4 separate regions of the Homo sapiens genome follow, and all the other regions are linked to region 1. Evidence: fine-mapped expression QTL. A gene starts in region 1. Each other region holds a variant in brackets. All regions are shown on one strand. Distances are from middle to middle.

Region 1 (7,815 bases):
ATGTGAGCGAGAAAGGAGTCTGTTATTTCAGGGCACTCAGCTGTGGAGCTTATTACTACAGCATAACCTAACTTGTCCTGACTCTTACAGTGATTCCATGTAGACAGTTGTGCAACTGTCAGAATCCCTGGGAGTTCCCTGAAAGCTTCGGGGATTTCAGGCGACTTCAGACGCCTCAAAGTCAAACAAAACCAAAAATGTCCCCTTCAGGAAGTCAGGCCATGTTCTGTCCTTCCGTTTTCCTTCTTACTAGGGAACTTGGGGAGGGAGGCTGGGCGGCAGCAGTTAAACAACTCACCCAATGGGAAAACCAGCACGCTCTGGGACCACCTCTGAAGTGATCTCACACCCTGACCACACACTCTAAACTCACTGTCATAATCCTTCCCCTTGGTCAAAAATAAAAGCAGCACACCCACTCTGCTGGGAGTGAGTCACAAACAGAAAAAAGTCAATGGGTCTGAGCCAAGAGGATCTACTAACAAGGGGAAAGATCTCCCAGTGGAGGTGTTTCAGCGGATGCTGCGGTCTTACCCTTGTAGCCTGGATGACCAGACAGATCAAAAAAAATGTTAAAGTCCAGGCATCTGACACTACCCCAGCAATGTCCTGAGCTTATAATGAGACTAGAGTTTCTTTAGCACTTCTTCCCTGGGGAAGAAGGAATACTCTGCTGTTCATGTGGGGTGTGTGTGTGTGTGTGTGTGTGTGTGTGTGTGCATGGGAGCAAGAAAGAAGTCTATGTGTGTGTCGTGGGTTGGTGGGGAAATGCTATTTCAAGGAAGAAGGGGACTGGGCTGGGAAAACTGGCATCAGAGGAGACATGCCCCAGCCAGGGAGCCTCACATTGAGGTTAAGAAGGGCAACTGCCCGCCCCAACTCTAATTTCTTGGCTCAAGGAGATGAACTTTAAGATAAACTTTATGATAAATTTTTTGATTGGTTACATGGAGTTATATGATTAATATCTCCATTTTCATCTCTTTTCCCACCCCAGAAGCCAAATATAGGGCTCTGGCCCTGCACAATCTCCTCCCACATTCATGCTAAGAGCAGCCACTGCCACTCCACCAAATCAGAGCTGCAGGAGGAAAACAAAAACTAGAGCATTTTTCTGTACAGCCCAGACAACTGGGGAAGAGTTTTATGCCTGATGGTTTCAGATAGCCCTCAGTTTCCCGTGGCCAGAGATGACGCTCCTCCTCATGAGTCTCTCTATCCAGGAAATCTGGGCTGGGCTGCCCAAACCATGCTTTGAGGCTGCAGGGAAGGACAGAGATGGAGACTGTTAGCAATTATTTCACAAATGGCTTTTCAAAGCCGATCTTCCAGGGATGCACTTGTTGTCAGATCCCTGCTGCTTCTTGCCCCACCAGGCTGTCACTCAGAGCTCAAGCTGTTTCCATGCCCAGGACCTCACCCACCCACTGCACTCCAGGAAGGGGATGAGTCTCAAGTGTGTGGAGATGGGTAACAGAGTGTGGACACAGCAAATATTTATATGGAATACAGATTTCTGCAACAACCCCAAGAGAACTGCTTGCAGAAAAAGTGGGAGATTAAAATAAGAGACCACAAGGGCAAATTGTATTTTCCCTTTTACACCTTCAGCAGAAAGTATTCAGGAATAGCCCTCATTGGGCTTTTATCTGTCAGGTCCACTGAAGTACACTTGTCCTGGGGAGAAGGAACAGAGAAGCCCATTCTCAGAATCACCACCTCAGACCTAGAGCAATGGTTTTCCAAGTTGGGTCCCTGGATCAATAGCATCAACACCTGGGAACTTGCTCAAAATGAGCCATCTCAAACCCCAGCCCCAGACCTATAGATTCTGAAACTTTGGGGATGAAGCCCAATAATCTTAACAAGCCCTCCAGATGACTGTGATGCATACCAAGGTTTGAAAACCACTGATGTAGCAAAAGCAAGGTTAGGAGAGGGAAGAGGAAAGGTAGAGGAGGGGTGGGGCAGAGGCGGTGGCCTGTGGCTTACACCCCTCATCGGAGCTCCTCTGTTTGGTAGCACTGTGGGGTTGACTGTCCCATGGGTCATTCCTCAGAAACCACCTCATAGGGTGAGCTCCCGCCTCTGGTGAGCCCCCAGAGCCCCAGGAACCTCTCTTCTGCTACAGATTTGGGAGGCAGAGGACTATGATTACCGTGAGGGAGAAGCCATGGAGCAAAGCTGGCTGGGAATTCCCTGGCCACTGGACTCTGGAAATCTTAGGAATTACCTAAAAATTACCTCCAAGGGAAAAACAAAAAGCAAAAGTGAAGATTCCCCTACGAAGCACTAGGGGGAGACCCATCTCTGGCCTGGGAAGAGAAGGGAGAGACCAGGTCCAGAAGAATTTAGACTATTCTTCTAAAAAATGACCACCGCTAGACGGACCAAACCGAACCTGTGTTTTAAGAGGAAAGCTGTGATCACTGAGTCATAATGACGGAGCTGGAGAGTGCCACGTTAACAACCACCTGTCTCCCCACCTCCAGCCCAATGTACAGTTAACAATACTGGGGCTAGAGAGGGCCAGGGCCCAGGCCCAGGTTCAGAGATCCAGGAGTCCTCCTTATCCATAAGATGGGCCTGTTTCCATGGGCAAAGGTGCCTGTCAGGAACAACTACATAATTTGTGGGAACCAGTGCAAAAAGAAAACGCCTGGCCCTTTGTTCAAAAAGTAAGACTTTCAAGATGGTGACCGCAGAGCGTTAAACCAGACAAGGGTCCATGAAGGCTTGAAGCAAGCCTTCACGGGGGAAAGTGCCGGGAGAAAGGAGATCTCTCTTTGGGTCCCATGAGTGAACCATCCATACCAGGTTCCACTTAGGGCATTTAGGGGAACTGGTATCTCCACAGTAATTACTAGAGCAGCTCTGGGGAACGGAGGGTTGGCTAAGGAAGAAAAGCTCCCCCAACCCTTGGGGCGAGGGAGCGTTCTCTCAATGGAGCCCCCCCAACTCCCCTCCACCCCCCACCAGTCTTCCAGGAAAGAGGAATACCCTACCCGGCAGGGCTGCGAAGGAAGGGGAAATCCAACCAGAGCGAAAGTCGCACGCGGACAGCTCTGCCAGCCCTTGGAGGCATCCGGCGGTCACCCACGGGACAAAGCGCGGCTGCGGGAGCGCGCGCGGGGCATTCCGGACCCGCGTCGAGCTCCGCTCTAGAGGGGGCGGCGGGCGGCGACAAGCCGGAGAGAGGAAGGGCCAAGGAGCACGGCCCTCCTGTCGGCACCATCAGCGGGAGAGTGGCGAGCGGACGCCTAGACGGAGGGGCCCTACTCAGACCCCATCGAGCCAGTTCCCAAGCTTTTCCCTCCGACCTGCTCCCTCCCGGGGCGCGTGAGGGTGCGGGTCGGGGGTGAACCTGGTGTTGGGGAAAGTGATTGGCAAGGGAAAGAGGCAGGGCTGAAGGCCTAGGGCCCCCCGCAGAAATGCGCCCTCTGAGCTGTACTGTACAGAGGCGCTCCTCTGCGGAATCCTGCAGCTGCTCCAGGTGAAGACGCCCCCAAATCCACACTCGCGCAGACGTCGCCTGGCACGGACCCTACCCCCTTCGGTCCGTCGGCGGTTCTCTTGGGTCGTCCTTCCTGCCACTCCGACTCTCCCCGCCCCCGCCCCGCCCAGCAGGCTGCGGTTCCTTTAAAGGCGCGCTGGTGTGGGGCGGCCCCTTCTCTCGGGGCTGGCTCGGGAGTAGCGCAGTCGCCAAAGCCGCCGCTGCCAAAGCTGCCGCCACTAGCCGGGCATGGCCATGGCGTCCCCGGCCATCGGGCAGCGCCCGTACCCGCTACTATTGGACCCCGAGCCGCCGCGCTATCTACAGAGCCTGAGCGGCCCCGAGCTACCGCCGCCGCCCCCCGACCGGTCCTCGCGCCTCTGTGTCCCGGCGCCCCTCTCCACTGCGCCCGGGGCGCGCGAGGGGCGCAGCGCCCGGAGGGCTGCCCGGGGGAACCTGGAGCCCCCGCCCCGGGCCTCCCGACCCGCTCGCCCGCTCCGGCCTGGTCTGCAGCAGAGACTGCGGCGGCGGCCTGGAGCGCCCCGACCCCGCGACGTGCGGAGCATCTTCGAGCAGCCGCAGGATCCCAGAGTCCCGGCGGAGCGAGGCGAGGGGCACTGCTTCGCCGAGTTGGTGCTGCCGGGCGGCCCCGGCTGGTGTGACCTGTGCGGACGAGAGGTGCTGCGGCAGGCGCTGCGCTGCACTAGTAAGTGTGAAGGCAGGGGAGGGGCGTGCGGGGAGACCGCAGTCTGGGGGCGAAGGACTGGGAGGGCCCTGGGGCAGGGAGAGAGGGGCCATTACACTCTTTGGCTCCAGGGGAGCCCCGAACATAAGGAGATAACAACCCCTGGGGACAGTCCGCTCCTTAGTTCCCTGCCCGGTATCCTTTAGTGCCTGCCCACTACCTAGGTATGGTTATGCGGTAGTTAACAGATACCTGTCTCCTGACAGGTGCGTGCCTTGGCCCTCCACACACACACACACACACACACACACACACACTCGCACACAGGTTGTGGGGGGTGGGTGGGTGATGGCCTCGGCGGCCTCTGTCATCTCCCTGTGCACCCTCATGGTTTTGTTGTGAGTTCTTGGGAGTGGGTTGTGAGACTGCTGTTGAGATGACCGTTTGACCCTTGCTTATTAGGGTTACTGACAAAACGCTTGTTTGTCCGCCCATGGTACAGGCTCAGACCTCTCCTCCAGGGGGACGTATTGGGACAGGGAGGAGACCTTGTTAGATTTTGGATAAAGGCAGGCTGTGAGGCTGAAGAGAGCCTGAAGTCACCCTGAACCCGTGCCCCCTCCTGCCTTTCACCTCTGGCCCCTCAAACCTTTGGACTCTGCTCCAATGTTTGGCTGTGCCCTGCCTCCTCCCCTTCCTCCTCCTGGGTTCCTGCCCTAGTCGTCATGCTCTAACATTACTCAGCTCCTGACAGGGTCCCTTCCTCTCCACAGCCCTCAGGCCCCTCCAGTCACCTCCTGAGCCAGGCGCTTCTCAAAGCCAGAAAACACTGGGCCCCCAGTGTATAGATTTTCTGAGCCAATCTTCAGTCTCCTTGGGGGTTTATTATTTTTCTCCTCCTACAGTTAGGGGTGTGTATGCCTTTAATAGGTGTCCACCCTCCACCCCCACCCCGGCATTTGCTCTTGCGTGTTTATCAGAGGATATCCACAGCCATGTGTTCATGTGTTTACATGGATATTTCAAATATCTGAAGCCCAAAGCACAGACAATGGCACAGCCTCTAACAAGCATCTCTGGAAATGGATTGTGGTTTGCATCTTTCAGCAAAGGCCCTTCCCCTATGGCAGCAGCCTCACGTCTCCCATCCAACTGCAGCGTTGGACAGCAGCAGTGATTTCCACATCAGGAAAACCCTACCCTTTTTCTGCCTGCAGTCTGCAGCGGAGGCTGTTCAATGTGCTGCCCGCTGCAGCTGGCTGCAGGGAAATAGAACTCAGACACTAAGCCTGGGTCAAGTGGAAGGGAAAGATTGGAAGGGCAAGTGGGTGCTGCTCTTTCCTCCACCAGAACCCCCAGTTCAGGTGCTAATTAAGAAGGAAGGAGTAAAGGTTTGTAGAGGTACATGTTGTGGGTAGAGGGGCTGCTGTCCCTTGGTAAATGCCTTTGACTACAGTAGAATCAAATGCAACTTATCCTTGGATGTGTTGGCAGCTTTTGCACTTTCAAGATTCCCTTACTGCATCCAACAACCCTACACACAGGGAGAGAGGCAGGAGCCTCACTGAAATGGGTTTTATCATAGCTGGAATCCCAGGAAATCTGCTTCGTTGGCATTCTAGTTTGTAGTTAGACTTTGGGGGACTGTATCACTTGTTGAAGATTTTGCACATAGTTTTGTGATTTTCTTTTTTTTTTTTGGTTTGGTGATAATGGTGCGTTTGTGTGTATTTGCGTGTGCCTGTGTGTGATACTCCATGACTAAATGAATTGATCCTTACGTCACATCAGAATTGTCGATCTCCTTTGATTAAGTCATACGTCGTTTCTAGTGGCAGGAAGATCTAGGCCCCCGGGCAGTACCTCTGACTTTGTGTGTGACTTGGTGAGGTCTTTTTACTTTCCTGGGCGCTCATGGTCCCCCACAGAGTTGGTTTAATGCTAACGATGTCTGAACACTGGAGAGAAAGCAAAACTGGAATCGAGGGGCTACAGAAAGGAGTCTCTGTTTGTCATGATTAATATTTAACTAATTGTGAACCTATGGCTGGATGGCAAAAGTTGAGAAATGTTCTGATGTGCAGATGAGGGCTGGCAGGTGGAGACACAGCAGGCCAAACTCGCTGAGCATCTTTCTTTAAGTTGAAGGTCTGATTCCATGGTGAGGTTGCTTTGTTTTATCTTCATTTTGAAAAGCAAGTGTCAGAAATAGGACTTTAAAAAAAATCATACTATGCAGTAGTTAAGAGTACAGACTGGAACCAGAGCCCTGGGTTTGAATCCTGACTACCACTTAGTCCCCACGTGAGTCCTGGACATCTCTGTGTTCTGCTTCTTTGTTTAAAAAAAATAGGATAATGATATTACCTACTTCATCATGTTAATCTGAGAATTAAATGGATTAATATACATAAGGCACTCAGAACAGGGCCTAGCAAAATGCAATACGAATGTTTAATTCGATATGATTGTTATTGTCCCCTCCCATCTAACAGCTGTAACAACTAGTCTGGGCTTGTGACACCTCCTAGGATTACCTTTCGAAGCAGTGAGTACAATTTGCGAACTCTGCCTGGTTGCTGAGCTAAGTGGGGAAGTGACTGCCATAGACATCCCAGAAAATTTGGGTATTAGGTGTCCTCTAGAAATGCCACTCCTACCTGATGTCCTGCTGTGGCTGAGGAGACCCTTCTTTGCCTGGCATAGGGGCCACGAAGCCATTGGCTCCTTGTCTTTGTGTTTCTTGCACCCAGCAGAGTGCCAGGCCCAGAGCAGGGTCTCACTATGTGGTGAGTGATGAAAGTGATGGCTTGTTTGTGCTATTAAATATCCCAGCCCTTGGAAACAAGCAGGAGGGCAGTGGGTATGTGAGTGACATCTGTCTGCCCAGGAGACTGACACTGGGTGGGAACCATGTTGGCAGAAGGGCACTTTAGTAAGGAAAGCATTTTGGAAAACACTCTTCCCACTGTCTGCCTTTTTAGCAAAAGTTCATCTAACCTAAGCTTACCCCACTTCAAGGTCTGTAACCAACCTCTGGTTAATGCTGGATTTGTGAACAGGGAAGTTCAGAGTTAATATTAATTTCTAGGATTAAAGAACTCCTAGTTGTGAGATAGAGAAGGAAATCCAGTGGGGATCTGTGGAAAGGCAGAGAGAGAACGAAAGGTCCTGTGAGCCCATGTGTGTGTTTTGGGGTAGGGGTGATGGTGATGGCGAGAATGCATTTCTAGCATTCTAGGAGGGAATGGTCAACAGCAAATAACCAGAGAAACTCACTGGCTGCCCTTTGGCTTTATTCTCAGGGACTTCCCCTTACAGATGACGTCCCTTAGTGTTCCTTCTGTAGAAGGCGCATGGAGGTGGCCTTTTACCTTTCATCTCATTTTGGTGGCTGCGTAAGCCATCCTGGACCAGGGGATGGTCTGGCACTTGGAGAAACCTAAGCCTGACTCAAACCCTCCTGGAGATGCTTAGACACACCTTGGCCATTGTCAGTGAATGCCACCTGTCTGCTCCTGGAGTCGGAGTCTCTCTCCAGAGGGGGCGTTATTCAGAGCTGTGAAGTGTTAAGTGATTGGAATTACATGGTTGAAAGGGAGGCCAACTAACCTCCCCACTCTGTGATAGATTTTAA
Region 2 (7,815 bases), 90 kb after region 1:
TTCAGTATGTATCTCCAAAAGACAAGGCTCATTTAAACATAAAAACAAAACCATCATCACACCTAAAAATAAAGTAACAAACAATAGCTCCTTAATATCAACAATCTAGTCAGCAACACATGCATTCTTCTGGTATTCAGCTTCACAAATGACAAGTATGTGACTTTGAGATAAAAAAGAAAAATGTTAGTGCTTTTAAAATATCACAATTCTCCCCCTTGTTGCTTTAAAACAAATTCTTTCTCATTCATGACTACAGATAGTAAAGTGTATTACTATCAGGGGTGTGTGGGGGATGACTGCTATCAATAAAGACTATAAAAGCTCCAACTAGCCTTACGCTTATCAATGAGCTCCAGACCCAGAAAATCTTAGAATCAATAAGACTTTAGAGGACGTATCTCTTCCAATTGCCCACCTGATGCATGAACCCCCAACTACATCCTCCCCTGACAAGTGCTCACCTAATTTTTGCTTGCAGACTCTCCAGAAAAAAATTCACTATTTTATGAAGCACCAATTTCAATTTTGGACAATTCTATTTGTCATTATTAACAGAAAATTAGTGTTTACATAAACTATATATATGAAAATTATTTAGTTCAGTGTCTGGCACATAATTAAACACTCAATAAATAGTGACTGTTACTAATTATTGTAAAGATTATCATTACTGGTTCTCAATTATTGAGAACCAAGTATTTATATGCCAAGTACATTCTAAGTGCTTCAGCCATGTATACGCCTTCATTTGATCCTCACAATGCCTTACCAGGTAGGTATTATCCCCATTTTTCACAGAGTAAAACTCAGACAAAAAGAAATGAAGTAACATGCTCAAGGTCAGGCAGTGAGGCAACGGCTGCATTTGAACCCAGTACTATCCAAAGCCCACGCTCGTAACTGTACACTACTACAAAGTTCTTGAGTCTTTACAAAGACAGACTCAAGTCTGCCTTCTTGGCATTTCCACCCAATAATCCTATTTCTGTCCTTTCAAGGCATATAGAATAAGTGCCCTACTTTGCCAGGGGACAGCTTTGCACATATTTGAGGAGAGATGTCATTGGTTCCCCACAATTTTGTGTTGCCAAGCTAAACACACTCAGTTCCTTCAGCAAGTTTTTTACAAGTTATTTTCATTGAGCAAGGCCTAAGAGGTGAAAGAATATGTGGGAGCTGAATGTCCATAACATAGTTCTAAGAAAAAAATGAAAATACAATCTTGTTTACTTTTGGAACCAGGCTCTAGCAAGTTTCCTAGAACAAAATCCTAGAGGGCAGTGAGTGAGCGGGGTCAGCTTTACCTGTTTCATACAGAGCCCAGCCCAGGCACATAAACACGGGTGTTTCATAAAAAAATCTTTGATGAGTTTGAGGCCAATCTAAAAACCTCCAATCACATTAGGGAGACCAGAACTTGGCAAGAACATTAAATCACTATCCTTGAACATTGTGTCTTTCTAAAATTACCTTTTTATTAGACGCTCTTTGTGCTAGGGTGATGTCAATTGGACAGATTCTCCCTTTCTTCACAATGGGCTCTTGTCCGGGAAGGGTCACTTGATAGGCAGGCTGTAATTTTTCCAAACACCTGAAACAGAAGTTATGAGTTGCAAACTGATAAAGCCAACAGAAACCATTTCCTCATACCCCACTACCAGCAGGCAGTTAGGTGTAGGCTGAAATTGCAGGTCCACAACCTTGGCTGCACATTAGAATCATTCAAATCCCTAGGGAGCTACAGCCCAGATCAATGAAATCTGTATCTCTGACTAGGGCTATGTATTTTTTAAAGCTCCCTAAAATGCGGCCAAGGTAGACACCCACTGATTCAAAGATGGGAACATCAGTGACTTAGGCCCCTGGAAACGGTCCACTGACCTGGCCTTTTGAGAATCTGCCCAGTCTGCCCTGTGGAGGCTACTACCTGTCTCAAGAATGTGCCTTAAGTGGCCCATTGCCTGCGAGTGCTGCTTCACATTTCTGACATGTTTTATAGAGAACTTTTACCACGAGGAGTTTCTACCTTTTATCTAACCAAGTTTTCTCTTGCTATCACATATATCAGGATCAACAACTTTTTCTATAAAGGGCTAGACAGTAAATATTTTTGGTTTTGCCAGTCACCTGGTCTCTTACAACTACTCAGTTCTGCCATTATAGCATAAAACCAGCGCACAGACAACACATAAATGGATATGGTTGTGTTCCAACAAAACTTTATTTACAAAAACAGGTGGCAGGCCAGATTTGACCCATGGGCTGTAGTTTGCTGACTCCTGACAATAAACTATTTTCAGTTATGTGGAAAAGAAGGAATATTAAAAATTTTTCCTTTAAAGACTTTAAGACACTTTTCCCCAGCCTTCTTTTGCTTCTGCATCTTATTGAAGTTTTATTTTATTTTTTCTTATTTTTTTAAATGCCCTCACTTTAACAGAGTAAGTTCTTTTTTTGAGACAGGGTCTCACCTTGTCACCCAGGCTGGGGTGCAGTGACATGAAAATGGCTCAATGCAGCCTCCACCTCCTGGGCCCAAGCAATCCTACCGCCTCCGCCTCCCAAAGTGCTGGGACTACAGGCATGCACCACTATGCCTGCCTGAAGTTCTTATTTTTAATTAATGTTCCTTTTTGTTCTTCCTTTCAAGCTCTCCCATGTCATATTGGCTCAAATTGTTCCAAAGACCCCCCAAATCAGAGTTCCTCAAGCCTGTGTTTATGTAGACTGACTTGGTATGAATTACAGAAAGAAAATCAAAGGCTAAGATAGTGACAGTATTAAAGTTCAATGTGATCAACATTAAGGCGAGGGGATAGAAAAGTTGGAGAGGGACTGCCAATGCTCGTTACCTGGTCAGAAGACTGTCCCATGGAAGCTTCATGACTGTATGCTGTTCATTTTTCTCTAAGATGCAGTCACATAGGATGGGATCCAATCTCACAAGACTAAAGGGAAAGAAGAGGCAATGAAGAAATCCTAGACTTGTCCCTTCTGACCTGAAGGCTAATTCAGGATTCATCTCTCGTACGGCCTTTATAGACATTCAGGATATGAATCAATTATGGGCCCACAGTCCAAAAGGCAATGTACCTTATGGGTGGGAGATACACGAATGCTTTCCTAGGAAAAGCAGGAGGTGGAAGGGAAAGTGAGATGGGATAAATTTGAAGATCAGGAGCCTTTGCTACTAACTAAGCATGTGACCACAGCTTTCTAAGCTTAGCATCAAAATTGGCTAGTGAGGAAGAAAGAAAGGAAGTGGGGATCTTTAAAATGAAGGTGTTGGCCAGGTGCAGTGGCTCACGCCTGTAATCCCAGCACTTTGGGAGGCTGAGGCGGGAGGATCACCTGAGGTCAAAAGTTCAAGACCAGCCTGGCCAACATGGTAAAACCCCATCTCTACTAAAAATAGGGCCGGGCGCAGTGGCCCACGCCTGTAATCCCAGCACTTTGGGACGCCGAGATGGGTGGATCACTTGAGGTCAGGAGTTCAAGACTAGCCTGGCCAACATGGTGAAACCCCGTCTCTACTAAAAATACAAAAATTAGCCGGGCATGGTGGCGCATCCCTGTAATTCCAGCTACTTGGGAGGCTGAGGCAGGAGAATCGCTTGAACCTGGGAGGCAGAGGTTGCAGTGAGCACAGATTGTACCATTGCACTCCAGCCTGGGCAACAAGAGCAAAACTCTGTCTCAAAAATAAAAATAAAACATAAAATAAAATGAAGGTATTAGATTAGGCTGGTATGTCTCAACTTTTTTATCATGATGATGTTTTTTTAAAGTGAAAAAAAAATTTTTTTTTGAGATGGGGTTTCACTGTATCACCCAGGTTGCAGTGCAGTGGCATCATCATTGCTCACTGCAGCCTCAACCTCTTGGGCTCAAGCGATCCTCCCACCTCAACCTCCCAAGTGGCTGAGACTACAGGCATGCCCTACCATGCCCGGCTAATTTTTGTATTTTTTGTAGCGACAGGGTTTCATCATGCTGCTCAGGTGGGTCTCAAACCCCTGGCCTCAAGCAATCCTCCCACCTCAACCTACAAAAATGTTGGGATTACAGACATAAGCCACAGTGTCCGGCCATTAAAGTAAAAAACAATTAATGGAACTCTCTTCATCTGGTAGTTTACCATCTGTATCTCCTTTTAAGAAAATAATACCATAATGGGTACAAATATACAGTTAGATAGAAGAAATAAGTTTAGTCTTTGAGAGCAGAGTAAGGTGACTGTAGTTAACAACAATGTATTGTGTATGTCAAAATAGCTAGAAAAGAGGACTTACAGTGTTCCCGACACATAGAAATGGTAAATACTCAAGGTGATGATACCCCAAATACCCTGCCTTGATCGTTATACACTCTGTGCATGTAACAAAATA[C/CCA]CATGCACCCCATAAATATGTACAAATATCTATCAATAAAAATAAATACCTAAAGCTATGATGACTTCAGTAAATTCTTTGTAAGCTTGCATTTTATTCCTCACAATAGCCAATTAAAGATGATTCATGGGTATTTGTGAGAGAATATTTACTTAGTCGGTAGTCAATGTTGATCGTATACATGGATCTGAACACCCCAGACAATAACTGAGTGTCCACAGCCCATGGTTTGGAAACCACTGATCTTAATTACCTCTAAGATGCTATGGTTTTCTATTCTCCCTCCCAGACATCCTCCCCAAATGTGTCTATGTCTGATAAAGACAAAGACCCAATAAGACAGATCTGGTGCTTCTCATGCACTCACTTTTTGTTGTCTGCATCAACCAGGTCATTTTTCTTGGCGTAGTTAATGACGATCGTTCGGACCTCACTGCCCTCCAGAAAGCTCCCCTTCCTAGGTGAGGAGAAGTGACCCAGGGGTTAGTTCATGCTGTGCCATGAGACAAAAATGCAGATGCCCAGACTCACTCCCTGCTGAGCAGGGAACTTTCCTTAGCTTTCGGCCTCTAGTTTCTTCCCTTTTCCTGACTGAAGTGAGCATGACCATGTGAAGAATAATTACACGCAGAAAAGGGTGAGACCTACTCGTTCATTTAGTCCAGAGGAACTTGCCCAGGGAAGAAGGCTGGAAGCTGGATTTTGGAGAAGGGGAGAACAGGGGCAGAGCAGGTTTTGCCAGTCGCAAAAGAGCACTACTCAGGTTGAGAGGAACTGTAGGCCAGAACACCAAGCAGGCAGAGAAGGGCTGCTCTCCAAAAACTCACTTGTGGCCAGACTCCTGGAAGAGCAGGGTCATGCTGGCTGGGACACAGTAGAGGGGTTTTATATCTGGAGGGTGATAGGGCTGTTCCCTGCTACCCTCCTGGATAGTCTGGGAGGTCGGGGAGGGCTCGGGTATGACGAAAGATGTAATCCTAAAACCCAGCAGAAGGAAAGAAAAAACACATTTTATACTAGCATCTCAGCAATCCCCAGTCCGTGGCCCAGGTGCCCTGGGGCCAGCTGGGCTACAGTGACAGGCCCCCTGCACTCACCTCGGGTGTTTCCAGTCCACAGCCACAATGCTCTCCACCCCTTTGCTCAGCTCCTTCACCTGTATAATCTGCTCCTGCTGCATTTGCTGCAGGAACTTAGAGAGCTAAGGGAGAGAGGGCCAGTGGTAGGGGACTTCATTGATTCCACACACATACTGAGCACCCAGGATGTGCCAGAGTGAGCTAGGCAGGGACTGTGCAGGGATATGAGACAGCCCCTGCCTTCATCAACCAGGAACTGGGAGGCCCCCAACCTGAGGGCCAGGGAGCAAGAAGCTGCTAGAGACTAACCAGTGAGGCCGTTCAGAACTCTAATCAGATATAAAGGGGTCAAAGGAGAAAGGAAAGTGGGTGCCACCAACTGCTTCAGCCCAGGGAGAGTTTCTTTCTTCCCCCTTATACTTGGAGTCAAAAAGCTTAATTCTAGACTGAGCCTGGTAGACAAGGCTTCCCCAGCATCCATCTGGCTTATGTCATATGTGCCCCTACACAACTCTCTGCATGGGTCTGCAAAGAAGATCCTTGCTTACCTTTTTGTAGCTTGACTTCTTTATGTCCAGTTGTCGTCCTTCGGGGCTGATGGCAGATGGAAAAGGCAAATTAAACTAATGAGCAGTCATACTGGGACCTGCCTGACACTGAGAGGAGGGCCTTTTTCCTCAGCCTTCCTCCCCCACCTTCAGAGAGAGGCCACTGTGCCAGAACTCTCTGCCCAGGGATGACAGCAGAGAGGGATGCAGACTATGGGACATTCTAAATCAGTGCTGTTCAAGAGAACTTTCCATAGACGTGGAATGTTCTCTGTGTTGTCTAACAGGGCAGCCATTAGCCACATGTGGGTAGTAAGTACTTGAAGTGTGACTAATGTGACCAAGGGAACTGAATTTTAAATTTTATTTACTTTAAATTAATTTAAACTGAAAATAGCGACATGTGGCCAGTGGCTACCACATTGGATACAGCCTTAGATTCCTCCCAGACCAGACAACCTTCTGTGGCCTCCAAAGTTGCAACAGCAAACTCACACTGTGGGCAGCCAGGCCTGGAGTGGGGCCCAGCAAGCCGCATCCTGGGGTCAGGTCTGGCCAACTAATTATCTACTGTCTATGGTCACATTAGTGCTACAATGGCAGCATCGAGCAGTTGCAACAGAGATGGTGTGGCCTGCAAAACTGAAAATATTCATATTTACTATCTGGCCCTTTACAGAAAAACATGCTGACCCCTGCACTACAGCAATTAGTTTTGGAGAGAACATTCCTGATAAAAGCTTACATCTTCTCTCAAAACATGACACGCAATAGCAGTGGATTCTCGAGGAGTCCTTCTAGAATCCACCCCAGAATCCTATCCTACAGAATATTCTGGGGCCCCTTTACCATATATTTGCAACCCAAGAAAGTCAGAACAGATTACCAAGTATCCCTCCACACACTCCAGACACCACATTTGTACAGGATAGCTTAAAGACACCCAAGTATAAATGGGAAGACATTACATTAAGAATCACTTTTTTAAAAAACCACAGCCAGATTCTCAAAAAGAAATAAATTCAGGCCGGACACAGTGGCTCACGCCTGTAATCCCAGCACTACGGGAGGCCGAGGCAGGCGGATCACTTGAGGTTAGGAGTTCAAAACCAGCCTGGGCAACATGGTGATACCCCATCTTTACTAAAAATACAAAAATTAGCTGCACATGGTGGCATGTGCCTGTAATCCCAGCTACTCGGGAAGGCTGAGGCAGGAGAATCTCTTGAACCTGGGAGGCAGGGGTTGCAGTGAGCCGAGATCACGCCACTGTACTCCAGCCTGGGTGACAGAGTGAAACTGTGTCTCAAAACAAAAAATAAATAAATAAATAAATTCAATCTCAGGGTAAAAATCAATAAGCAAACCTCCTGACATGATAGTATTTACTGAATGCTTATTATGGTTCAGGCTATGTAATCTTTACAGCAATCCCATGATTATTAGAAATTAGGACTCAGAGAAGCCCAGTAACAAGCTAAAATGCACATTGCTTGAACACCCTGGAGACCTAGCAGTTGAGTACAGACAGCTCTGTCTTCAAAATCCAGGTTCTATCCACACGCAATAATACCACTCCTGATGGCTTGTGTTTTGGATGGGGTGGGCCGGGACGGGGGGTGTTCACACCAATTCTTCCTCCTAATAAAACCTAATGTGGCCCCCCACATACTTTTCAGAAGTGTGAGGAGGTTGAATGTTCCAGAAGAAGATTCCTGACAAAGAGGCTGCCCTGGGACACTTCCTGCAGAGGACACGCTGCCCGATTTGTGAGGTTGCCCAGAACCCCCACGGCAG
Region 3 (7,815 bases), 34 kb after region 1:
CCTCTGCAGGTGCCCCGGGCTCCACTTTCTCTCCCAGGAGCTCTGGTGAGCAGGAGGTGGCATGAGGCCTCAGATTCCACATGCACTGGATGGAGTTCACAGACACCCTGTTCCAAGGGGACTAGGGGAAGTGACACAGAGAACTCTGAAGATACTCAGAAGTCCCCTGTAGTTCTCCCCAAGTACAGAGCCTATTGTGGCTTAGGGCTCTGAGCCAGAGATGTGGGTATGAGTGAGCAGTGGGGTGGCTTCCAGAGAAGCCTTCTGACGGTCCCTAAAGGCCTCATAGCCCTGGGACAGTGGGGATGCTGGGGCTGAGGCATCTCAAGCACATTGTCCAGCCAGGCCAGCCCAACCTTCAGAGAGGCTGGGCAAATGTTCTCTCCCTGTGTTAAAGAACCAGAAAATTGATGTCCAAAGCAGCTTTTGGTTCTGGGTTTTGTAAAGACACTTGAACTGTGATGTATCTGAACTTTTATTTCTAGGATTTAGAATGGAGACAGAGGAGTGTGTTTATTGCTTCTTGCATTGAACAAGCATTTGTTGAGTATCTACTGTGTACCAAGCATGGGTGAGAGTTGGGGTAATAAATGCTACGTCACAATTCTTGTCCTCAGACAGCTTGCATTCTGGCAGGGGAGGCAGAATACCAACAAATAGCATACACTGTGATGCATTTTGCAATAAAAGTATGAACCAAGTGTTTGGATATATAGTGCAATTGTTTCTGCTGGGAGAAATCAGGGAAGGCTTCCCAGAGGAGGTGATGTTTGATTTAAGCCTTAATGTGTGGGTTGAAGGTTGCGAGTCAGGGAAGTAAGAATATCATCCTTTAATTCATTTAACAAATAAGTTTCGAGTGTTCACCATGTGCCAGGCCCAGGAATGCTGAGGATTTAATGATGAAAATTACAGACATGGTTTCTACACATCCGGTGCTTACAGTAGGGTAAGGGAGTGAGACTTTAAACAAATATATCCTGTGTCTCTGACGGAAAATCTCAAGGTGCTCTGAGAAACTATACTGGGGGACCCAGGTGCTGGATGGGAGACTCACGAGCAGCCCCCCGGTCTCCAGAGTAGCCATCACATGCTTTTTCTGGAACACAATCAACAGTGTTCAAATGCCTAATTCACCATGGGTGTTACCAGCCTCCCAGCTGTTCCCTCACGCCTTTCTCTCTCCCTGGAAAAAGAATTATTAGAAAGCAAGAATGATATATGTTTTTATAAGGGTGATGCTGGATTAGTTCTAAAATGTATATTTTAAAACTCTGCACATCGCTCCACAGACGTTGGAATAGTAACTATTTCTGGTGTAGCCTGAATGTAGCCTCTTGGAAGGGCCTTACCCTTAGCAGGAACTGTCTACCCAGGATGGGACACAGGGAAAGGAGAGGAGGCACATCTGGCCCCCAAAAGTGCTGATGGGCAATGCAGATGTTTCCTGAAGGTTTTCCTCAGAAGATAGAGGGAGGAGGTTACATAGTACACCATATAGCAACATTTCCTAAAAATCTTATTGAAACAACCTTTTCTGGTCTCAATTTGCTTTTCTCTTTGGGAGCTTCCAAGTGTCTCTTCTTTCTGATCTCCTCAGCCCTGCACGCCACCCTGGAGCCTGGCTGTCCCCATTACTTCCTGGGTCTCCTCTTTGTGTCTCTTTCTGTTCCTTCCTTTAGAGCAGCAGGTCTCAAAAGGCGGCAATTTTACTCACCCCCTAGGACATTTGTCTGGAGACATTTTTGGTTGTCACAACTTAGAGGATGCTACTGATTCTAGAAGAGGCCAGGAATGCTGCTAGCCGGCCTGTTTTGCATAGAACAGCCCCCCACAACAAAGAATTATCTGACCTCAAATGTCAGTTGGGCGAAGACTGAGAAACCCTGCCCTAGAGTGGGCTAGCCAGCTCCCAAGTGTGGCAGGCAAAAGGCCCAGGGAAGGCCTGGAGTTGGCTGGATTCGTTGTCTCATCCTCCAAATGTCAGCAGTGAAGAGATGCTTTCATGTCTGAGTTTTTGGAAACAGAGTGACCCCCTTTCCTCTGCTGGAGAGAGGAGTCAACCTTGGAACCCTCTGGCAAGTGAAATCAGGGCTTGTCTAGAGCAGAAACACCACTGAAACATTGCAGAGGAAGGAGCCAAGAACCCCGCGTGGGAGCTGAACCGCCCCCAGTGGGCAAACAGCCTGGCATGGGGTTTGCTCCTGGGCTGGCCAGATCAGGCTGCTGCTGTATTTGCCTTGGACAGGCCTGCCTGCATGCTTCAGCAGAACTGGGGCAGGACCCAGCCCTCTATCAATAAAACCTGGGCCCTGCTCCAGGCCCACTTGCCTCTTCTAAAAAGCCTGTTTGTGCTCATTTCCGCCTTGGCTTGATTTTCTGTTAAATCTCAAGATGGAGCTTTCTTTCACCTTGACATCATCGACCTGGGCTGAGCTAACTTCATGTGCTAGTGCTGTTTTCTTGGGGGATTTAAGGGAGCAGGGGCTCAGATCTGAGCTCAGCTACTTCCGGGTATATATGGCTTAGGGGGGTCTCGTCTCAGTGGCATTTCTCCTCTCTGATATATATTTTTTTTTCCTGAGACAGAGTCTCACTCTGTTGCCTAAGCTGGAGTGCAGTGGCATGATCTCAGCTCACTGCAACCTCCACCTCCTGGGTTCCAGCAATTCTGCCTCACTCAGCCTTCTGAGTAGCTGAGATTACAAGTGTGCTCCACCATGCCTGGCTAATTTTTGTATTTTCAGTAGAGTTGAGGTTTCACCATGTTGGCCAGGCTGGTCTCGAACTCCTGACCTCAAATGATCCACCCGCCTTGGCCTCCCAAAATGCTGGGATTACAGGTGTGAGCCACTGCGCCCGGCCCTCTCTGCTCTTTAAGGAAAGAAAATCATTTATTTTCCTCCATCCAGAGAGAACCATTCTTTATTAACATTTTTATATGTTCTTCCTGAACATTCATACATTTTTCAAAACATGATTGAGATCATCCTGTAGATAAGCATTTGGCCTCAACATTTCAAAAGCAACAATCCCAAGGTTCTGTCTTGTCTCTGCCATGCCACAGGGAGGCAGCTGGGGAGGAAGGAGGGACAGGTGTGGAAGCGGGCAGGAATGAGCTCAGAATCCCCAGTGGCAAACTCAAAAGGTCATCGGAAACAGGCATCAGAAACCGAGGAAGGCCGCTGGGAGCTGTCTGTGCTTTTGTCAACCACAGAAATGAGGGTTTTGGAGTTTCTCCTTAAAGATCTCTGAGGTCTCTGATATCTGACTTTTCCTTGGGCACCCATGCGTGACCAAGCAAATCTCCTTCAAGTCTACCCTAGACCCCTTTTTCAGTTTAAGCCTCATTTGCTAAGGAACATCATCGCTATTGGCTAAAGACCACAATCAGTTACCCAAACAGCTGCAGTTCTTCTATTTAGGATTATACCCCAAAGAATTTATACTTCTGGTGGTCTTAACGGTGCTCTTATCCTGTCACCCCTGGGAGGAAAAAAGCCCTCAGTGGCTCCTGGTGCCCTCACGATGAAGTGAGGCCTCTGATGGCTTGGTTCAGTCCTTTCGCTGCCTATGGAGAAGCTGGCCCCAAGAGAAGAAGTCTTTGTCCTTGCCCACCACTGGATTCTCATTATCACCCACTGCGGCCCAGGGCAACCCCGGCAGCTCTGTCCCTTTGGCCTTGGGTGCCGCTTTTCTTGGTACATGGAATGCACAGATTGCAAGAGAGAAACATAAGCACTATTCCTTCTACTCCAATCCCTTGCAGCCAGTGCTCAAATTTTATGCCAGCAGGCCCAGAGTCCTACCCCTTCCTCCTGACCCTCTAGAGTCCCTGATATGGTTTGGATGTGTGTCCCCTCCAAATCTCATGTTGATGTGTGGCCTCCAATGTTGGAGGTGGGACTGTTGGGAGGTGTTTGGGTCATGGGGGTGGATCCCTCATGAATGACTTGGTGCTGTCCTGCAATAATGAATGAGCTCTCGCTCTATTAGTTCACACAAGAGCTGGTTGTTTAAGACAACCCTAGCATCTCTTTTTTGCTGTCTCTCTCGA[G/A]TGTGACACGCCTGCTCCCCCTTCCCCTTCTACCATGAGTAAAAGCTTCCTGAGGCCTCCCCAGAAGCCAAGCAGATGCTGGTGTAATGCTTGTACAGCCTGAAGAACCCCAAGCCAAATAAACCTTTTCTCTTTATAAATTACCCAGCCTCAGGTATTCCTATATAGCAACACAAAATGGACTAAGACAGTTCCTGGGCAGCAACCTCGGAAACCAGGCTCCCAGGCCCTCAGCTGCAAAGGCCAGCCCCTCCCATGGCCGTTCCCAGACCACACTCAGGCACTTTCCCCACTCAGGACTCAGGCCCTGCTCATGTTCCACCTGTCTACTATTTACTTAACATTTCTCTTTAAATAGACTTATTTTATTAAATTTAAATAAACTTACATTAAAGGAAATTTTAAAATATCCTCGAATCACTGGTTTGATGTACTTAGGAATTTTTTCTCAGCACACATTAAATGAATACTTATAATTTCTTTTAATATGTGTCTAAGGACTGCCTCAAATTTACTCCACAAATATTTATTAAGCCAGGCACTAGCCAGGCACAGTGGCTCACACCTATAATGTCAGCACTTTGTGAGGTCAAGGCAGGAGGATTGCTTAAGCCCAGGAGTTTGAGACCAGCCTGGGCAACATAGCAAGGCCTTGTCTCTACTAAAAATTAAAAACATTGGCCAGGTGTGGTGGTGGTGTGCATCTGTAGTGCTAGCTACTTGGGAGGCTGAGGTAGGAGGACAGCTTGAACTGAGGAGAAGGAGGCTACAGTGAGCTATGATCATGCCACATGCCACTGTACTCCCATCTGGGCAGCAGAGTGAGACCTTGACTAAAAAAAAAAAAAAAATCCACGCACTGTTCTAAAGTCCTTTCAGGTGTCATTTGTGGGAGATGCTGCCCTATCGAGGCCACTCTCTTTGGCCATCTGGTGCCTGGACTACCAGGGCACTGGGTCCAGGGAGTGCCTAAGGGGCAGTGTGAGCAGTGGAGAGAGCTCCTGGGATGCTGAGAAGGAATTGCCAGCTGTTCTTACCAATACCAAGGTGCTCTTCCAAAGGACACTTGGATCTGTATATACTGATACGGAATTGTGCAGCATGAATGCAGGTCCCTCCACGGTACACATAGGACCAGGCCATTTGTATTTTGCATGTATATATACACGTGTGTGTGTATGTGTGTGTGTGTGTGTGTGTGTGTGTAAATGCAGAACGAGGGCCTGGTAGTGCTCAGCTAACTACTGAAAGAGATTTCACCCTGGAAGGGGGTGGACGTTGAAAGGGGTAGAGTGAGGCTCTCACCTTTTGCCCTTTGTTTCTGTGTTGTTTGAATAGCCAAATGCTTTTCATATGTTCCTAATGTCATTTTTTATTTTTATTTTTTATATTGAGTCTTGCTCTGTCACTAGGCTGGAGTACAGTGGTGCAATCTGTGCTCACTGCAACCTCCGCCTCCTGGGTTCAAGAAATTCTCCTGCTTCAGCCTCCTGAGTAGCTGGGATTACAGGCGTGCACCACCATGCCAGGCTAATTTTTGTATTTTAAGTAGACACAGGGTTTCACCATGTTGGCCAGGCTGGTATTGATCTCCTGACCTTGTGATCCGCCTGACTCGGCCACCCAAAGTGCTGGGATTACAGGTGTAAGCCACTGCACCTGGCCCTAATGTCATATTATTAAAAGGCAGTAAATGTTTTCTTAAAACACAGACCCTTGGCCTGGGTGACTGAATAGCTAGGTTCTAATCCAGATTGTGTAGACGAAATACTTGACATATGAGCCAGGACAAGCCTCTTAGTTTCTTTGAGTCTCAGGTTTCTCTTCTGAGAAATGGGACCCTGTGAGGCTCCAGCGAGAAGAGGTGTGTGAAAGCATGAGTGGACAAAAGCATGAGTATTCTAGGTGGCAGTCCTGGGCCATCTCTGGTACCTCTAACAGTCTTGCTAGATGTAGATTTTTTAACTGTGTAACTCCTGTGATGAAAGCCCTCAGTGGCTTCCCATTGCCCTCAGAATGAGTCTAAATCTGGATTAGCACACACAACCCTTATGGTCTGGCTCTGCCAACTCTCCAAAACACCAGAAAGTAGGGTTGTTGTCCTGGATATAAAACCAGGACTCTCTGGCTTTGTGGTTTGGGTGGACATTTTTTGCTATAAGGTTTATGACTATTGTTGAGGCCCCAAGTCACTATTCCACCCTGTGGATGAGTCCCTGTCCCCACTCACCAAAGGAGCAGATGGCTTCCAGGGTTCCAGGATAGATCAGCCGGCCAGCCAGCATTTCAGCCTTGCAGGTCCCTGCTGCCTTTCTGCCTACACCCCCAACCCCAAACACTGTCAAGCCTTAGCAGGGCCCCTGCTGCAATCACCCCTCAGCCCCTGCAGCAGAGTAGTGACTCCGCTGGCTTGGAGTTCTGTGCTTCCTGGCTCCCAGTCCTTTGCTCCCTCCTGCAGACATGCCACTGTCTGCATTAACGCGGTCTCTACCTTTCCAGACCCTTGAGAAAAAAAAAAAAGCTCCTGCGGCCAGTCCTGCCTTGTCCCTCAGCCCAACAGCCACGTGTTGAACCCAGGATGACCACGTGGGGGAGCCAGAGAGCAAGAAGAAATGCGCCTAAAAGGGCAGGTGCTGGGGGTGGGGGGATGTGTCCTTTCCTGAGGCCCCGGGCTCCCTAACACACTTGATAGACCTACCTGCACATCTCTCAGGAAGTGCAGGGTCTTGGGTCCCTTCTGGAAGCTTCAACACATGTTAATTGAACTGTGACTGATAACAACAGTAGCTGACATTTTTTGAGGCATACCTGTGTTCTGTCTACTCATTTCATTTATTATTGAAAGAAGTGTTGAAATCTCCAACTATAATTGTGGATTTGTGTATTTCTCTTTACAGTTAATATGCCTGTATTTTGAAGCTCCATTATTAGGTGCATAAACTTTTAGGAATTTCTTGTGTTTTTTTTTTTTTTTTTTTTAACAGACAGGGTCTCACTCTTTTCACCCAGGCTGGAGTGTAGTGGTGCTCATTGTAACCTTGAACTCCTGGGCTCAAGTGATCCTCCAGCCTCAGCCTCCCAAGTAGCTGGTACTACAGGTGTGTGCCACCATGCCTGAATATTTTTTGAGTTTTTTTATAGAGATGGGGTCTTGCTCTGTTGCCCAGGCTGATCTTGAACCCCTGGCCTCAAGCGATCCTCCTAAAGTGCTAGGATCACAGGCACAAGTCACCACATGGGATACTTTTAGGATTATTATGTCTGCTTAGTTAATTGACCTGTGTATCATTATGAAATGACCTTCTTTATCCCTGTTAACATTCTCTACTATGAAATCTACTTTGTCCAATATTAACATAGTTACTGCAGCTTTCTTTTAATTACCATTAGCATGGCATTCCCTAATCTACCCTTTCATTTTTAGGCTATGAGTCTCTTTATATTTAAAGATCATTTCTTATAGGCAGCAAATAGTTGGATCTTGTTTTTTTTTAAACCAATCTGCTCATCTCTACCCTTTGAGTATTTAGATCATTTGCATTTAATGTGATTATTGATATAGCTAGATTTTTTTTTTTTTTTTTGAGACAGTCTTGCTCTGTCACCCAGGCTGGAGTGCAGTGGCGCGATCTCGGCTCACGATATAGCTAGATTTTAAGTCTATCTTCTTACTACTTTTTTTCTTTTCTTTCTTCTTTTTCTATTTTTTTTTTTTTTTTTTTTTTTTTTTTTTTTTTTTTGGGACAGGATCTCATTCG
Region 4 (7,815 bases), 71 kb after region 1:
CTTTGGAGACTTGAGTCTCTTTCCATTCTCAACCTCCACCCGCCACCTCTTTTTTCCCTCTGCTCTGTTAATACACCCTACCAGAGCTGCTCAAATTCCACATGGAGCAGAAGCTCCATGATAAAGCCCCTTCCCTGCTCTGCTGCAAATAACCTATTAGGGAACACAGTTAAGGAGTTCCCAACCCTTTTAATTTTGGGACAATGGACAGTGCCATAGAGGGACCTGTGGAAATCAACCCCTTCACTGCTGTGGTGGGTCTGTGGAGTCCATTTCAGAACACAGGCCTTCGAAGACCTGGGAGGGGGCCCTGCAGTAAGGCCCCATAGGGATTCCTCTTTCTCATTTGGTTGAGACCATCACAAAGGGACCAATGACTTTTTTTTTTTTTTTTTTTTTTTTGAGATGGAGTCTCGCTCTGTCATCCAGGCTGGAGTGCAGTGGCGCAATCTTGGCTCAATGCAACCTCTGCCTCCCAGGTTCAAGCGATTCTTCCGCCTTAGCCTCCCGAGTAGTTGGGATTACAGGCGCACGGATAATTTTTTTGTTTTTGTTTTTGTTTTTTTTTTTAGAAGAGACAGGGTTTCATTATGTTGCCCAGGCTGGTCTTGAACTCCTAACCTCACCTTTGAATGCGGTTTGGACATTGAGCAGGGTATTTCAAATCCAGCCCAGATAGATGGGTGTCTGCCCCTTGCCTGCAGACGTTCCCATCTAGGGCAAGCACAACAGAAGCACCGGGTGTTTGGGGTGTGGAAGGCAGCTGCAGATGGACATTCTCCTGTAGGAGGGGCCTGAGGCTTTCCTCCCTGACTTAAGCCTGGAGATGGCTTCCTTCCAAGGGGTGAAAGAATTGCTGCTGACAGATTTGCTAAGAGCTGAGAAAGAGGAAATGTGGCAAAGGCTCATGGTGAATGGCTTCCGGGGTATTTTTTGTTTTGTTTTCTTGAGTTGTGTGTGTTAAGAATGCGTAGACCGGCTTGGGCTTGGCTAAGATAGAGTCTTGCTGACAATAGAGAAAAGTGGTGAGCAGTGAAAAAGTAAAGTCGTGGCGGTTAGAAATGTTCTTTGTGCTCCTTTAGATTGGTTATTCCTGCTGCCATTCAGCCATGCTAGCTAGCCTCCAAGAGGCCCCCATCTCCACACCCAATTCTCTGAAATAGAAGAGGAAGCAATGATGAGAAAAAAACACCACCCTATCTTATGTGTAAAATCTTAGTCCTGCGAAGGGGCCCTTAGAGCTTCTCCAGTATCACTTCATGATTTCACAGATAAGGAAACTGAGGCCCTGAGAGGGGAAGTAGCTCCCCAGACGTCACAGGTCATTTGATGGTCTTGCATTTGTTCTCATCAGCTAGCTGCCAAGAGCTGAGCCACACGGCTAACGCCAAAGTCCAAAGCCTGGTGTGTGTTCTTGGTATCAGACCCTCAGGGTGCAGCTGAGTGTGAGGTGCTCCTGGACCTAGGGGTCTGGGGTGGGCTCTGGCCTGAGACTCCCCAGGCTGTCTTGCCCTCCCCTGCCACCCAATCAACAGGTATTTATCTGACACCTACTTAAAGTTTGGCCCAGGTTTCAGCCAAGCGGGGTGCCAAAAAGCTTAGGCACCAAACTAATGTCTGCCTCCATCCAGAGAGCATCTCACTGGGGAGATGGGATTAACATGTGAAACAATCATTAAACAATAAAAGGCAGCATATAATTAGATGCCAGCTGTAGCCACACAGGCTCTGAAATCACCTCTATAGGCTCTTGCAGTATGGATTTAACATTAGCCAGCAGCTGCAGAGATCTGTGACGATGGTAATTTGTACTTTTGCTGCAATGGGAATCTGAGGCTTTGAGGCCATGGGGCTGGTGTTTGGGAGCGAGTCACAGAACCAGGGGGTGAGCCTAGCTGTCTACCTCCATCCCTACCCCAGCCAGCTTTGTTGCCTCCTCATTGCAGAATGGAGTAAAGTGAGCAAAATCCAAGGAAGTGCCCAAGCCTTTGTCTTCTTGTGAAAAGTGTCCATGAAATGAGAGTGAAGTTACAAAGGCCCATTAACTGGTGGTGTGAGGAAATACACAGGAAACATAGGAAGTATGATTCAGGAGAAAGAGAGACCAGGACAAAACTGTGATTACCTTTCTCCATGTGGGAATCAAAATGCCAGGGATCTGGTACATTAAGAGAGCAGAGGATGGAGAGATGGCTATAGACTGGAGAAATTGCATTGGGAAACTACATAGAGAAGGTGGAACTAGGGCTAATAGTGTTCTAGGCAGGAGACTCTGCACAAACAACAGCATAGAGCAAACTACTGCACATGGCCAGGTTCCATAAATAAAGTTTGTTTTGTTTTTGAGACAGGGTCTTGCTCTGTCACCTAGGCTGGAGTGCAGTGGCACAATCACGGCTCACTGCAGCCTTGAACTCCTGGGGGCTCAGGTCATTCTCCCACCTCAGCCTCCTGAGTAGCTGGCACTACAGGTGCACTTCACTGTGCCCAGCTAATTTTTGTATTTTTTTTTTTTTGTAGAGACAGGGTCTCACTATGTTGCCCAGACTGGTCTCGAACTCCTGGGCTCAAGCGATCATCCTGCCTTGGCCTCTCAAAGTGCTGGGATTGTAGGTGTGAGCCACCATGCCAGGCCCATAAATAGTTTTACTGGAACCCAGTCACACTCATCCAGTAGCTGCTTTTGTGCCACAATAGTAGAGTTGAATAGTGGCAACAGACTGCGTGGCCTGCAAAACCTAACATTTACTGTCTGACCCTTTACAGAAAAAGTTTGCCAACCACTGGTGCAGAGAAAGGAATTAACAAACTCTATGGGCATGTGGCCAATCAGAAGAAGGACTCAAGGAAAATGAAAACTGAAATTGGCTCAGAGGGGTAGAACTTTGCTTTCCTGGGATGATAGTCACCATACATGCCTTTGAATGGGTTTGGTGATTTTCAGAACACTTTTGTACCCATTATCTCATTTGATTTTTACCTTCACATCAATCCTGTGAGACAATAAGGGATTTTTATCCCAAATGTATAGATGAAGAAACTGAGGCTTAGAGATTATCTGACTTTCTCAAGATCATGTAGTTAGTCATGGGAGTCAGAAGCCCAACACACACTTGTGTTCATCCTGCAGGTACTTAACCCCTACTATGTGTCAAGCTGGCACTGGGATCTGGGACACCATAGAGGACAAGACAGGCGTGGGTGCTTCTCTCACAGAACTCAGTCTAAATGGAAATCCAAGGCTCACTGCACTGTAATTCCTAGAAGAAATTAAGACCTTTTTTGTCCACTGTAGGCAATAGGGGATCATTGAAGGTTCTTGAGCAAGTATTTCCTATTTGCCTCATGCTCAGAGGCACCAGGCACAGAGAACAAATTGAAGTATGATGTAAGTCATTAAAGAGCTTTAGTCTAGTTGGGAAGAAGACCTGAGATGGATGAGTCTACTTGGAGGTTAATGTAAGCAGCCAGGCGCGGTGGGTCACACCTGTAATCCTGGCACTTCGTGAGGCTGAAGTGAGAGTATTGCTTGAGGCCAGGAGTTTGAGACCAGCCTGGGCAACATAGCAAGGCACCTCATTTCTACAAAAAAATAAAAAAAATTAGCCAGGAGTGTGGCACATGCTTGTAGTCCCAGCTACATGGGAGGCTGAGGCAGGAGGATTGCTTGAGCCTAGGAGGTCGAGGCTGCAGTGAGTTGTGATTGCACCAGTGCACTCTCGACTG[G/C]GTGACAGAGGGAGACATCTCAAAAAAAAAAAGTGTGTGTGTGTGTGTGTGTGTGTGTGTGTAAGTAGATGCTTACTTAAGTGCCAGATAGTATAGTGTTGCCTTTAGATGTAGGTTAGCTTTAACCTTCCTGTGGCTCACTTTCCTTGACTGTAAAATGAGCATCATAATAGTATTTTTTGTGACACATTTGCTGTGATGATGAAATGAGCTAATACATGCTAAGTGAGTAGAATAGTGCACGGTACATATTAGCTGTAGTGAATCATCGTCATCATTCAGGGCTGGAGTGATCAGGAAGAGCTTGACAAATAAAGTGACTTCTGATGGGCAAACAGGTGTGAGATGATTCAAATCGTGGGCCAGAAGGAGGAAAGACTGACAAATTTAAAAAGAGTGAGAGTGAATTTTTTAGCAAAAATTAGGTTTGTGATTTTGGTCAAGAAAAAGTAGGCACGGATGTATATAATAGCTGCAGTACTGCCGGTGGGACACACGTCCTCCTCAGCCCACCCTCATCCTGGGGACCCCCTCTCATTGCCACAGCATTCCTGGGTGCCCTGGGCCCACCTGGGAATACCAGAAGCCACGTGACTCACTCAGAGCCTCTCCTTAGGGCATTAGGTCACTCTCCAGTCACCAAAATTAAGATTACATATGTCATTGATTAGAGTGCAGAAGTAGGGTTTTGTTGCTGTTGCTTTAGTGATAAAATAAAGAAAAACAGCTTAGGGCAAATCTGCCCTGAGTTAGGCCCCAGACGAAAGGGGTATGGTCCTCCTTATTTTGTTAAGAATATTTAAATGGAAGCATTAGAGAATCACTCAGGGTCGGGGTGTCGCTGTGAACCCCTAGCACCCAGCCTCTTTACATGGCTGTTCCCCAATCACCTCCAGAGCTAAAAGAAGACATTGCCCTTTTCCACCGCATAGGACATGTGAGCACAAACCTGTTTTTCACCAGTGCCCTGGACATGCCAAGTGCATTGGGAACAGCTCAGCCATCTGCCACCAATGCCAGGGGCTTAATCGGAATAGATGAATTCCATGCCAGATGCACTGAGATGTGTGAGCCCCCAGGAGAGACACCTCACATGCCAATGTCTATATTTGTTAAATCATAACAGAGTTCCCTATTCTGTCTCTATCTTGGGCCACCCCAAGAGGCAAAACTGTCTGCTTGGTTTCTCGCTTTGTACCCGTGGACAGATCCTTAAGAATCTGGCAGGTGAATAGGAATCAGAGTCTTTGTCTTATCCTCTGAAGATTGCTATAGTATCGATCTCGCTCTCATGGCAGATAGTGCCTGTTAGGTAAACCTTTGGGGTGTTTGTGTGTTTCTTGGCACCAAGTGTTAATTCAGCAGCTGGATGAAGACCCTTGAGGTCTGGAATTGTTGTGAGGGGTCTGTCTATTTCAGTTCTTTTCGAATGTTGCTGCGAATTAAAATCAACTAGGAGATTTTTAAAATTCCCATGCCCAGACTGCACCCCAGACCAATTAAATCAGAATCTCCAGGGATGAAGCCCAGGCAGCTAAGTTTCTAAAGATCCCCCAGATGATTGCACTGTGCAGACAAGTTTAAGAACCACTGGTCTGGATTATACGCCATCTCTTGGGTGGAAAAAGGATCCGTGAGCCCTCGTGGCTGTGGCTGGCTGGCCTAATTCAGGAGGTGATTCATTTGGTCCATGGGTCACATCTTGTCTGCCAGATATTTTTGTGGGCAGCAGCCATCCCAGACCTGGGTGCTGGCATTCCATGGCTGTGACATTCGTAGTGTTGGCTACACACGGGGCTCCTGGCACTCCCAGACAGGGCTTCCCATCACCAGCCAGAGGGCCAGGCCTCAGAATGGTGAGGTCAGGGCTGCTGTCTTTTGAGTCAGCCCTGGAAGGCAGAGGTGCCTGTGGCCACTTGCGTCACTTCCCCGCGTTTGTGGTGGGAAGGGGAGAGATAGATGGGTCTATCTGCTGAAGAAAGGGGAACAGGAAGAAGAAACCCTAGGCTAAGGCAGCTTTGCTTCTCACTGTATTCAAAATCAAGCCTTTGAAAGCCACAGCACAGCTGCCTTTTCTTACGGGGAAATGGCTCTAGCTTGATTGGAAACTATGAGAGGAGATCTTTCCGAAGCTTCTAGAATTTTCTTTCCATTACTTATTTTTTATAGACAAGTATGAGAAAGCTATTACCTCCTGAGGAGCAATAGCCTACATGCGTCAGAGACAGAGTGAGTGTATAATAGTAACCAGACAACGGGGTCTTTCTAATTAGAAGCTCCCAGCGGGAAGGTATAGGGGTAGGGCCAGGGTCAGGCACATCTGGTCCCATAGACATGTGCTCAGCTGGCAAGGACTGAGGATGGGGAGCTCTGGGAGCTACCCAAGGGAAGGGATGAGGAAAATGAGAGGCTTCACTGTGAGAGTCCCCGGGTTAATGGACTGACAGTGAATGAAGAGAGTCTGTGAGGCTCACACTACTTGCTACTCACCTCCGGCAAGTGGGAGATGGCCAGAGCTGCTTGCCCTTGGGTGGTCTGCAACAGAATCAAGGTTCAGTTCCAGAGACCTGGGAAGGCACACAGGAGAAGGCTGGGCCCTGCATCCTGGTGGCTGCATCTCACTTGAGTTAGAAGTCCTTCCTTCCCACCTTCACAGGTGACATGGTGCCTCTGGGGCCTGACCCGCTGCTTAGACTCATCTTAGATGAACATTTCACAGATCAGGTAACTTACAGGCTTTGGTTTAACAGCTGCTCATCCCAGCCCCGCAGCACAGAGTTTCAGTGATCATTATGGGTGTGGCAGGCCGGCCCCTTCAGCAAAAGATGCCGTCCCATGGTGGCTACATGGTGAATTGAGAAGAGCATGGGCCTTAGATGGATTTGATTCCAGTTCCTACTTAGCTTCTTACTAGCAGGGGACCACAGGCATGTTTCTTAAACTCAGCCTCAGTTTTGTTATCTGTGAAATAAGAATGACATACATAGTATGTAAGAGAAGGTATGTGAAAGTACCCAGCACAGGCTGTTATTAATAGGTCAGGACCCCTTGGGGAGAGTACAGCGGGAGCAGACAGGCCAGGGAACGATGCCATGATGGAAAGAGGATGTCAGAAGCTGGGTGCGGTGGCTCACACCTGTAATGCCAGCACTTTGGGAGGCCAAGGCGGATGGATCATTTGAGGTCAGGAGTTCGACATCAGCCTGGCCAATATGGTGAAATCCCGTCTCTACTAAAAAATACAAAAATTAGCTGGGTGTGGTGGTGCGCACCTGTAATCCCAGCTACTTGGGAGGCTGAGGCAGGAGAATTGCTTGAACCTGGGAGGCAGAGATTGCAGTCAGCCAAGATCGTGCCACTGCATTCCAGCCTGGGTGACAGAGGGAGACGAAAGAAAAGAAAGAAAGAAAGAGAGAGAGACAGAGAGAGAGGGGGGAGAGAGAGAGAGAGAAAGAAAAGGAAGGAAGGAAGGAAAGAAAGAAAGGAGGATGTCAGCTGTGCTGAGGGGTTGGAGGTGGGAGGCTGGAGCCACGCCAGCTCCTCTTGGCAGCCAGAGCCTGACATTGCATCGGTTCTGTGGGATTGGAAAGTGGAAGGAAGTGATGGCAGGTTGTTCAGGGTGGCGTGTCTCCCACATGGCTTGCTGAAGGGAGGAAGGTAGGGCAAAGCTCTGTCACGGAGGGGGGGCCCTGTTGTGTTCCGCGGGGTGGTGATGTGACGTCGCGGCAGCTGTGAAATTCCCCAGCCAAACCCAGACACCCACAGGACAGTGTCAGATGGTGTCAGAGTCATCCCTCACTGGGCCTCAGTTTCCTCATTTACCAAAGGAGAATCCTGATCCACCCCAAGTCTGCTACACTTGAACGTCAGGCAAATTCTGGGTGGGTTCTGACCAACCAGTTCCCACACTCCCAGCCACTCAGGGACAGTGTGAAGATAAAACCGGGAGGTGGGTAACAGTGAACTTGAGAGAGAGCCAGAGAACTGACTGAGGGACAGTGGCTTCGACCCCAGAATTCACCCCTGTATTGTCTCTACAAGGTGAGGGCCATTGACCTCAATCTCCTCAATTTCATTGTTCACTTATCC

Direction of the effects. Alleles are on the strand shown, and positions count from the first base shown. SD is a standard deviation of normalised expression in the study named. Not every link is listed here.
For the expression in thyroid of the gene that starts at base 3,671 in region 1, G is the high allele of the variant in region 3 and A is the other (small effect, 0.20 SD a copy in GTEx).
With allele C in place of G in region 4, the expression in monocytes after R848 of the gene that starts at base 3,671 in region 1 is lower (large effect, 1.4 SD a copy in Quach 2016).

Evidence for each region.
Region 2: its variant is fine-mapped to the expression of RASSF5 in blood mononuclear cells (TOPMed, PIP 0.94).
Region 3: its variant is fine-mapped to the expression of RASSF5 in thyroid (GTEx, PIP 0.92).
Region 4: its variant is fine-mapped to the expression of RASSF5 in monocytes after R848 (Quach 2016, PIP 0.93).

The regions. Positions count from the first base shown.
Region 1 is chr1:206,503,861-206,511,675 of GRCh38, forward strand. RASSF5 (Ras association domain family member 5) reads left to right here and starts at 3,671. Exons shown (of 6, transcript NM_182663.4): 1 at 3,671-4,199. The coding sequence starts at 3,743. LOC124904493 (a long non-coding RNA gene) reads right to left here and starts at 3,547. Exons shown (of 2, transcript XR_007066830.1): 1 at 3,006-3,547; 2 at 1-1,260. RefSeq lists enhancers at 560-609, 640-689 and silencers at 3,287-3,336, 3,587-3,946, 3,987-4,076.
Region 2 is chr1:206,594,245-206,602,059 of GRCh38, forward strand. It overlaps EIF2D (eukaryotic translation initiation factor 2D), which reads right to left. Exons shown (of 15, transcript NM_006893.3): 8 at 6,019-6,064; 9 at 5,489-5,592; 10 at 5,219-5,368; 11 at 4,759-4,848; 12 at 2,856-2,951; 13 at 1,474-1,594. Among named protein-coding and RNA genes, the nearest start is that of EIF2D, 14 kb to the right of the region's middle. RefSeq lists an enhancer at 7,643-7,815. The variant C/CCA (reference allele first, on the strand shown) is at 4,392.
Region 3 is chr1:206,538,330-206,546,144 of GRCh38, forward strand. All of the region lies in intron 2 of RASSF5 (Ras association domain family member 5), which reads left to right. Among named protein-coding and RNA genes, the nearest start is that of RASSF5, 35 kb to the left of the region's middle. RefSeq lists enhancers at 5,858-6,402, 6,346-6,585, 6,403-6,945. The variant G/A (reference allele first, on the strand shown) is at 4,058.
Region 4 is chr1:206,574,476-206,582,290 of GRCh38, forward strand. The region is part of intron 2 of RASSF5 (Ras association domain family member 5); the gene reads left to right. It also overlaps a transcript of EIF2D not described here. Among named protein-coding and RNA genes, the nearest start is that of EIF2D, 34 kb to the right of the region's middle. RefSeq lists an enhancer at 1,383-1,432. The variant G/C (reference allele first, on the strand shown) is at 3,727.